Homo sapiens: one gene and its partners. The protein of the gene in region 1 interacts with the protein of each later gene in a pairwise test. Each region holds a gene or a part of one and is shown in the gene's direction. Other genes may lie near its edges.

The links.
Region 2: the proteins of TRIM23 (region 1) and EAF2 interact in binary tests that used the Homo sapiens proteins (3 or more experiments, as listed by UniProt).
Region 3: the proteins of TRIM23 (region 1) and MRPL4 interact in binary tests that used the Homo sapiens proteins (3 or more experiments, as listed by UniProt).

Annotation. Positions count from the first base shown.
Region 1 is NC_000005.10:65,617,807-65,621,465, reverse strand, and holds part of TRIM23 (E3 ubiquitin-protein ligase TRIM23), read left to right. Parts: intron 1-3,210; coding exon 3,211-3,373; intron 3,374-3,659.
Region 2 is NC_000003.12:121,883,608-121,887,175, forward strand, and holds the end of EAF2 (ELL-associated factor 2), read left to right. Parts: intron 1-2,734; coding exon 2,735-2,781; 3' UTR 2,782-2,919; downstream 2,920-3,568. UniProt on the Homo sapiens protein: Acts as a transcriptional transactivator of TCEA1 elongation activity. Acts as a transcriptional transactivator of ELL and ELL2 elongation activities. Potent inducer of apoptosis in prostatic and non-prostatic cell lines.
Region 3 is NC_000019.10:10,257,875-10,260,704, forward strand, and holds the end of MRPL4 (large ribosomal subunit protein uL4m), read left to right. Parts: intron 1-347; coding exon 348-454; intron 455-538; coding exon 539-648; intron 649-734; coding exon 735-811; coding exon of another isoform or gene 812-864; exon of another isoform or gene 865-1,297; coding exon of another isoform or gene 1,298-1,632; exon of another isoform or gene 1,633-1,742; coding exon 1,743-1,939; 3' UTR 1,940-2,181; downstream 2,182-2,830.

The DNA of each region.
Region 1 (3,659 bases):
TTTTAATATGGTTCTTTGGAGTTTATTGTCATAAATTTACTTTATTAGAGTATCATAATACAGCATTTATAAAATGTTGCATTTATTTTATATCAAATTCTATTGTGAATTTTTGAGACAGAGCCTCACTCTGTCGCCCAGGCTGGAGGGCAGTGGCACAATCTTGGCTCACTGCAAGCTCCGCCTCTTAGGTTCATACCATTCTCCTGCCTCAGCCTCCCGAGTAGCTGGGACTACAGGTGCCCGCCACCGCGCCTGGCTAATTTTTTGTATTTTTGGTAGAGATGGGATTTCACCACGTTAGCCAGGATGGTCTCAATCTCCTGACCTCGTGATCTGCCCGCCTTGGCCTCCCAAAGTGCTGAGATTACAGGCGTGAGCCACCGCACCCAGCCTATGAATATTTTTTCTATATTTAATTGAATTTTTTTTTTTTGAGGCAGGTTCTCACTCTGTCACCCAGGTGGGAGTGCAATGGCACGATCATGGCTCATAGCAACCTCGACCTCCTGGGCTCAAATGATCCTCCCACCTCAGTTTTTGATTTTTTTTTGTAGAGACAGGGTCTCGCTGTGTTGCCCAGGCTGGTCTTGAACTCCTGGCCTCAAGCAGTCCTCTTGCCTTGGTGTCCCAAAGTGCTGTGATTACAGGTGTGAGCCACAGTGCCTGGCCTAAAGAATTTGATAACGTGAAACTTTCCCCTTTTTAAAAAATGTAGGATAAATTGAAGTATGTGTATATATGAATAATAGACAGAATTATACGTGGATAGCTGTTCCCCAGTTGTTTGCCTTTTTCATGGGGAACCAGTGTTCCAATGTTACTGGTGTCCTATGTATCCTTCCAGGAAGACAATACGCTTATACAACAATACAAAAAAAATTTGCTCTTTCCCCACCTTTATGCAAAAATGAATATATTCTATTATTTTTCTTTTTGTTTTAATCATATGAAATCATTCTGTGTATATATGAAAAACTTCATCTTTCTCACTATCCTATATAGTTTTATAGTATTATGAATGTGCCACAATTTATTTTCCAAGCTGATATTGATGTATATTTACTTTCTTTCCAATTTTTTGCTAATGCAAATGATGCTTTAAGGAGTAACATACAGATTTTGTCACACGTGTCTAGTATGCTTGTAGGATAAATTCCTGCAACTAGAATTACTGAGTTATTTAAATTTGGTAAGTATTGTCAAGTTGCCCTCCATAGAAGCTGTATTGCTCAATAAACATTTCATAGCAATTAGTAATGTATGAGAGTGTCTGCTTTCCCACACCTTCACTAACAAAATGTTACCAACATTTTTGATCTAATCTGAAAAAAGTATTTTGATGTAGCTTTAATTTGCATTTTTCTTTCTTTATTTTTTTGAGACCGAGTGTCATTCTGTCACCTAGGCTGGAGTGCGGTGGCGTGATCTTGGCTCACTGCAACCTCCGCCTCCCAGGCTCAAGCAATTATCCTGCCTCAGCCTCCTGAGTAAACTGGGCTTACAGGCGCCCACCACTATGCCTGGCTAATTTTTTTGTATTTTTAGTAGAGATGGGATTTCACCATGTTGTCCAGGCTGGTCTCGAACTCCTGACCTCAGATGATCCACTCGCCTCGGCCTCCCAAAGTGTTGGGATTACAGGCATGAACCACCATGCCTAGCTTTAATTTGCATTTTTCTTATTATGAGTTAGATTGAACATCTTTTCACGTAAAGAATTTTCATCTTCTTTTCTCTGAACAATGTTATGTTTCTTATTTTTATTCATTTTTATCTTCCCAAACCCTTATTTACATTGAAGGACTAAATTTAAATTTCTTTTGAACCATGATAAGATGCAAAGCAATTATGAATTATCACTGTATGGTGAAAGATATTTGCATCTCAAGCACTAAGTCCAAGTTAATTGTAGAGTTAGGTTTAAAATCATAGTAGATTTAGTCTGATTTCTGCCTTGGGTTTTCTGTTTTTTACCTCGTGTTGTGTGTTTGATGATGGTGAGCTTAATTGTTTTTAAATTATTTTACTGGACTTTATGTAAGCAGTAGGTACTTGGTATTTAAAATACCCAGTTCCTGAGGGTTCTTTGGTCCAACAGGGAAAGACGGGCTAAAAGACCAAGGTATTAAAGTGTTTTGGGTGTTACGGTAGACGCTTATACAGAGTACATCGGGGCCCAAAGGACAAGTATAGTCCTTTCCTCAGTGTTAGCATGAAGAGACATGAAACAGTTTCTCATGTTCTGAGAACTATAAGCTGTTGGATATAGTTGGAGCATAGGGTCAGAAGAGTATGGCAGTGAAGCAATAGGACAGGGACCAGATTGTAGCAGGTCTTGAATGACAGGAGTTTGAGGTATGATTGAATAGTACAGTGTGGGTATTTTTAAAAAATTAATGCAAGGTATGAAACACTACAAATATACTTAGAAATAAGTGCTGAAAATGCTTTATTGCTATAAATACAATTTGTTGACTATTTGTAAAACATAAACTTATGGACTTGAGAATCAGAATATGCTGATAAATGGCCTTTCTTTTGACTGACTGTGTAGCCTTGTGCAAGTCATGTGTCTGTAACTAGAGCTAGAAAGACAAACTAGTTTCTAATTCAGAGCTATATTTATTGATAGAGAACAGGAATTGAAATTTAAGATGATTGCTTTTTTTGCCTTTGTATTATTTAATGTACATTAGATAGTAGAAGATACTTGAAAGTTACTTGCAGTCTTTTCTTAACAAGTTCTTTATCATTTGCAGGGGTAATTGTTATCTCAGTACATATTTTAGATTATTTTTGTTGAAATTAATGATAGTTTATTTGTGTTGAAATTAATGATGGGTTAGGTAGTTGCAGAGAAATTGCTTAAGAACCCACCTTCAGTAGAATTACATATTGTTTGTACAGATTCAGATGTAATGACTGAAATCATAATTTTCAAAAGATAACAAAGATGTTAATTTACAGCATCTTTGCCCCAACACTTAGTATTTCAAAGATATTTCATTATGATATAATTTTGACAGGGTCGGTCAAATGGAATGACTTAAAAGTGATTCAAGATTTTACAACCTACATAGTTTTTTTTTCATAGAGGAATAAAGTAACAATGTTGATTCAATATATTAGGTGAATTTTCTTATATACCTAAAATATGTATGCTTTTAAAATTGTTTAAAGAGCACATCCTTCCTTTTCAAATATTAGGTGCTAGAGTGTGGAGTTTGTGAAGATGTCTTTTCTTTGCAAGGAGACAAAGTTCCCCGTCTTTTGCTTTGTGGCCATACCGTCTGTCATGACTGTCTCACTCGCCTACCTCTTCATGGAAGAGCAATCCGTTGCCCATTTGATCGACAAGTAACAGACCTAGGTAGGAAAAGTATTTGTATGGATTTAAGATTGAAAATTGTTCATGTAATGCAAATGTCATAGGAAACAATGTCCTTCCACTTGATTTTTAGAATGATAAAATTCCCAGAAAGTTTCAGAAAGCCTAAGTTTCTATTAAGGTCAATAATCTTCAAGCTATAAACTATCTCACTCTTAGTTACTAATTTTATTTTATCTTCTGAGATGTTTATATTCAATACTTATCTGTAAAGAGCTTTAAGACACCTGAGAAAAACGTGCTACCCTGATTCAAATAAATAAGAATG
Region 2 (3,568 bases), on another chromosome or scaffold:
CATCCATTGCAAGACATTTAGCATTCCTAAACTCCCCTCCCACTAAATGCTATTAGCAATCTACAGCCAACAGGACAAGCAACCCCTCATGTAAATTTCTGTATCATCCCCTGGGGGGCAGTACTACTCTCAGTGATAACTATTGATTTAAATGCCTGAATATATTTCTATGGGTAAACTCTCTTTTTCTGAGTCATAATTACAGCTATGATTGAAAACATATTTTCTTTACTAAGCAACTCATAATCAAAGGCTAATCTTATATCTTCAAAACTTGACTGAATATTTCCTAACCTTGACAGCATAAAGTCTAGAAAGGCAAAATGGAACTCTGAGTACGTTTGGGTTTGTGTCGCTTGAAAAACTCATATTACAGGCATCATATAACATTCTTATGTCATATAATAGTTCTGTAAGTGGAAACTTAATCCTTGAAAATTATGAAATGCATCAGGCAAGGTGGCTCATGCCTGTAATCTCAGCACTTTGGGAGGCCAAGGCAGGTGATTCACCTGAGATCAGGAGTTCGAGACCAGCCTGGCCAACATGGTGAAACCCTGACTCTACTAAAAATACAAAAAAATTAGCCAGGCATGGTGGCGCATGCCTGTAATCCCAGCTACTCGGGAGGCTGAGGCAGGAGAATCACTTGAACCAGGGAGGCAGAGGGTGCAGTGAGCTGAGATAGCGCCACTGTGCTCTAGCCTGGGTGACAAGAGTGAAACTCCATCTCAAAAAAAAAAAAAAAAAGAAATGAAAGTGATGAGATGGTCATGAGAACCAGATGCACAGAAGAAGTTTTAGCAGATTTTCTTATTTATTTATTTATTTTTTTTTTTGAGAAGGAGTTTCACTCTGTCGCCAGGCTGGAGTGCAGTGGCGTGATCTCGGCTTACTGCAACCTCCACCTCCTAGGTTCAAGTGATTCTCCTGCCTCAGCCTCCCGAGTAGCTGGGACTACAGGCATGTGCCACCATGCCCAGCTAATTTTGTATTTTTAGTAGAGACGGGGTTTCACCATGTTGGCCAGGATGGTCTCAATCTCTTGACCTCATGATCCGCCCACCTCAGCCTCCCGAAGTGCTGGGATTACAGGCGTGAGCCACCGCGTGCCCGACCTCGCAGATTTCTTTATCAAATGATGTTATCAGTTCTGCAGTTCATGCAAAAGACTGAAACATCTTATAATTTATACGTGGCCTAAAAACTATTCTTCTTAAATTAGGTATTGATTTCAAAACATGCCAGCTTTTTTGATTGCGGATTAGTTAAAAAATATAAGAATTTTTTTAACCATTGTAATTTACTACCTAAGTGATTTCATTCAGTCTGTTTGCTTCAGATAAACCTGTACGATCAATGACTCTCAAATCTTTATTTCTAGGTCCAGCCTCTACCTTTAGCTCCAGACTTGTATATCCAACTGCCAGTACCATATATATTTGGGTATTTACTAGGTATCTCAAATTTACCACATGAAAATTGAACTTGTGATTTTTCTTCTACAACCATGTTCCTCTGGTGTTTCTCATCTCAGTAAATGATAACTCAGTAAATGATTTATCCAGTTGTTCACAACAAAAACCTTGGGGTCATTCTTCACTTCTTTCTCTTGTACCCTAAATTCAATGTTTTAATTAGTCCTATAAACTCTGTCTTCAAAGTACATTATGAATCTGACCACTTAGCCTCACCTCCCCCAGACTACCTGAGTCAAAGCCAACATTATTTCTTACATGAGAGACTGCATTAGACTTACAACTTCTCTCTTGTTTCTGTGTTTCTTCCACACCATTATGGCGTATTTACTGATCTACAACCGGTTTTAAGTTAGTTGCCTGCTTAAAATTTTCTCATGAATTCTCATTACATTTTCAAACAAAATCCAAAGTTTTTACCATGACCTTGTGGATATCTTTCTGACCTCATTTACTACTGTTATCTTCCTTATTCATTCCATTCCACCCACAGTGGCCTTCTTGCAAGTCAGAGAATGCAACAAATATGCTCCTGCCTTGGGGCATTTGCACTTCTGTTCTTTTGGCCTGGTCACTTCACCTCCACATTCTCCATTTTTTATGACTTTCTTCCTATATTTGGATCTCTGTTCAAATGTCACCCCTCAAAAAGGCCTTCAAAACTACCCTATTTAAAATAGCACCTGCCACTGCCATCTCCATACCCATTTTCATTTTTCCATAGCACTTATCCCTACTTGGCATTATGTTATATATTTGTTTATTTGTTTACTGTCTGTCTCCCCCACTGGACTGTAAGCTCCATGACTGTAAGTACATAGATGAATTACAAAATGAATCAATGGTGAATTATCCTTGACATATATTATTTAATGATTTTGACTCCATTTTAAGTAAAAAAAAAATAACATTTTTTTCACTCTTCAAAGTGATATAGTTTAATCTTCTAAACTACATTTTTCTCATTTCCCGATTTAATTAAATCAGTGATATAAAAAAAAGAGTGATGGGGATATGTGAAAGAAGACTAAAATAGATGCCAGGAAATACTAAAACTGCTGAAGTTTAGTGGTATATTTTTTCTTTACACACAGTATTATTTGAGTTACTAATTGTGTCACTGAATTACAGAATAAGCAAAATACTAGGTAAACAGAATCACGCTTGGGGGCTATATTTTGTGTAAAATTTGTGTTATGCAAAAATAATATTAAATATTTAATTACTACAGTTTTGTTATTTCTTTCTTATTTTAGGAAATGATTTGCAGCTGAGTGAATCAGGAAGTGACAGTGATGACTGAAGAAATATTTAGCTATAAATAAAAATTTATACAGCATGTATAATTTATTTTGTATTAACAATAAAAATTCCTAAGACTGAGGGAAATATGTCTTAACTTTTGATGATAAAAGAAATTAAATTTGATTCAGAAATTTCAGTTGATGTTATGTATTTGTTTTTTAGACAGTTTATTTATATAAATTTATTTATTGTTTTTTAGACAGTTTATATATAAATATATATTATATATGAAGATATATATATATAATTAAATACAGCAGTTTTAGGTTCATAGCAAAGTTGAAGTTTTAGGTTCATAACAAAGTTGAGAAGGTCTTATTTCTTCTCTCCTCATTATCAATATCCCACACCAGAGTGGCACATTTGCTAAAATAGATGAGCCTACATTGATAGATCATTATTACACTAAGTCCATAGTTTACATTAGGGTTCAGTCTTGATGTTGTGCATTCTATGGATTTTTGACAAATGTGTATTCATCATTTTAGTAACATTCGGAATAGTATCACTGCCCTAAAAATCCTTTGTTCTGCCTATTCATTCGTCTTTTCCCTTTAACTCCCAGCAACTACTAATCTTACTGTCTCCATAGTTTTGCATTTTCCAGAATGTCATGTAGTTGGAATCATACAGAACATAGCCTTTTCAGATTAGTTTCTTTCACTTAATAATATGCATTTAAGTGCCTCCATGTCTTTCATGGTTTGATAGCCCATTTTTTTTTAAGTTTGAATACTCTCCTATTGTCTGAATGTATCACAGTTTGTTTATCAACTCAACTACTG
Region 3 (2,830 bases), on another chromosome or scaffold:
CTCGCTCTGTTGCCCAGGCTGTAGTGCAGTGGTGCAATCATAGCTCACTGCAGCCTTGAGCTCCTGGGCTCAAGTGATCCTCCATCCTCAGCCTCCCAAAATGCTGGTGTGAGCCACCTTCGCCAGCCCTGTCTCAGAGTGTGACAGCTGGGAAAACTGAAGCCCAGTGAAGCAAAGTCACTGGTCCCATGTTGTCCCTGATCCAGCCTCCCCTGAGGCCCCACCCTCTCTGCCTTGTTCCTGGCAGCGCCCCCTCTCTCGTCACCCCATGCCAGCCACTGCAGCAGATTGCTGACCTCCAGGCTCTGCAGTGGCCCCTACCTGCTCACATGCCTCTGTCCCCGCAGGAGGTGTTGCCCATGGCCCCCGGGGCCCCACAAGTTACTACTACATGCTGCCCATGAAGGTGCGGGCGCTGGGTCTCAAAGTGGCACTGACCGTCAAGCTGGCCCAGGTACAGCCATGGGGGGGCCCAGACAGCTGCTAGAGGTGGGGCTGCTCTGGACCCAGGGTTCAAACCATCCTTTCCTTCCACCAGGACGACCTGCACATCATGGACTCCCTAGAGCTGCCCACCGGAGACCCACAGTACCTGACAGAGCTGGCGCACTACCGCCGCTGGGGGGACTCCGTACTCCTCGTGGACTTGTGAGGGCACAGGGCAGAGCAGGGGCAGGGGGCCCTGAGCTCCGTACTCTGAGGGTTCAACCCCCACTCCCTGGCCTCTCTTACAGAACACACGAGGAGATGCCACAGAGCATCGTGGAGGCCACCTCTAGGCTTAAGACCTTCAACTTGATCCCGGCTGTTGGTGAGCAAAGAGCCCAGGCCCCTAGAGTGCGCATGTGCAGGCTCCGCTGTTAGAATCACAGCGGTTCAAATCCGGCATCTGGTCGCTGAGTGGCCTCAGGCAGTGACCACGCTCCCGGACCCAACCTTCAGCTTGCCCAAAGCAATAATCTTTCCTAAAGAAGTGCTTGGCTGGGGATGGTGGCTCACGCTTGTAATCCCAGTACTTTGGGAGGCCAAGGCAGTCTGGGCAATATAGTGAGGCTCCCATCTGTACTAAAAATAAAAAAGTTAGGCGTGGCGATGTGCACCTGTAGTCCCAGCTACTCGGGGGCTGAGCCAGGCGGATAGCTTGAGCTCAGGGGGCCAAGGCTGCAGTGAGTCATGATCGCACCACTGCACCCAAACCTGGGGAGAGAGCTAGACTCTTGTCTCAAAAAAAAAAAAAAAAAAAAAAAAAAAGCTCCAAAGTCACCTCTGTCAAAGCCACAGTCTGTTCCTTCCACAGCCACAAGATGGCGACATGAGCCTAAGTCAAGTCCTGTCCCTCAACCCACGCCCCTCGCTGGCTTCCCCACCTCTCTCAGGATGAAAGCCCAAGTCATCAGGGTGGCACGTCAGGCCCTGCACGATGTGCCCCGTCACCTCCCTGCCCTCCCGTCATTTGCCCTGGGTCTCCCCCACCAGAATGGGAGCCAGGAGTCCCAGCCAGGCACAGGACCGAGCCTGGCTCTCGGTCAGCAGGTGATGAGCTGGGAGCAGCTCCTTGGCCAGAGGCTTACAGGCAACAAGCGGCCAGGCAGGGTCTGGCCCCGGGCTGCTGGGCTCACAAAGTCACACTAGACCACAGTGACGATCTCTGTAAGCACAAAGGGACTCCGATGTGGGTGGGGTGAGGAGAGAGGCAGCCCCGGCCTGACCGGCCCCCCGCCCCGCCCCCACCCCGCCCCCAGGCCTAAATGTGCACAGCATGCTCAAGCACCAGACGCTGGTCCTGACGCTGCCCACCGTCGCCTTCCTGGAGGACAAGCTGCTCTGGCAGGACTCACGTTACAGACCCCTCTACCCCTTCAGCCTGCCCTACAGCGACTTCCCCCGACCCCTACCCCACGCTACCCAGGGCCCAGCGGCCACCCCGTACCACTGTTGATGTGAAGCACCTCTTCTGAGCCAGGCCGAGCCCCTGGCCGACTTGGGAGCCTCAGGCCCACGCCCACCCTTCGAGGAAGGTGTCACCTGGACCCCTTCATTCCACGGAGGAAGCTGAGGCCACAGGGAGCGGCCATCGCCATTGGGAAGGGGCGACTCCACGGAAAGCCCAGACGGGCTTCTGCATCCATTCCCTCTTTTTGTTTTTAAAATAAATTGTATTTTTGAATCAAGGAGGATAAAGATAACTTCTCAGTGTCATTTTTGATAATTGCATTGAGAACGATGAGCTCCTTCCCAGGTTCTGGGCACTGTTGGGGATCCGCCGTCTCAAGAGGCTCACGGTCTGGTTTAGGGGAACCCCAGGGCTGTTTGTGGAAATTACAAGAATTCACTTACCCGGTGAGTCAGACTCCAGGAGCTCACAGGTGCGTGGGCGCTGGCACTTCCTAGGAGCTGACTCCTGCCACATCCCTCTCCTGAGCACTGCTGCCAGCCATTCTCACCCCTGAGAGGGTTTGCAGTCCTGTCTGCGACAGTACTTCATGCAGCCTGAGAGTGTGTGCTTGATTGTACAAGTAGATGTTGTGTAAACCTGAGTTTTCAGAGTGACTTCCTGTAAGCACAGTCAGAAAAGTAAATGTCTCTCTGTAAGTGAGCAGATAAGCACATGCTTAAAAACACCAGCTGGGCGTGGTGACTCGCACCTGTAACCCTAGCACTTTGGGAGGTCAAGGTGGAAGGATCGTTTGAGCTCAGAGCTTCCAGACCAGCCTGGGCAACATGGTGAAACCCCATCTCTGCAAAAAATATAAAAATTAAGTGGGCGTGTTGGCGTCCACCTGTGGTCCCAGCTACTTGGGAGGCTGAGGTGGGAGGATCACCTGAGCCC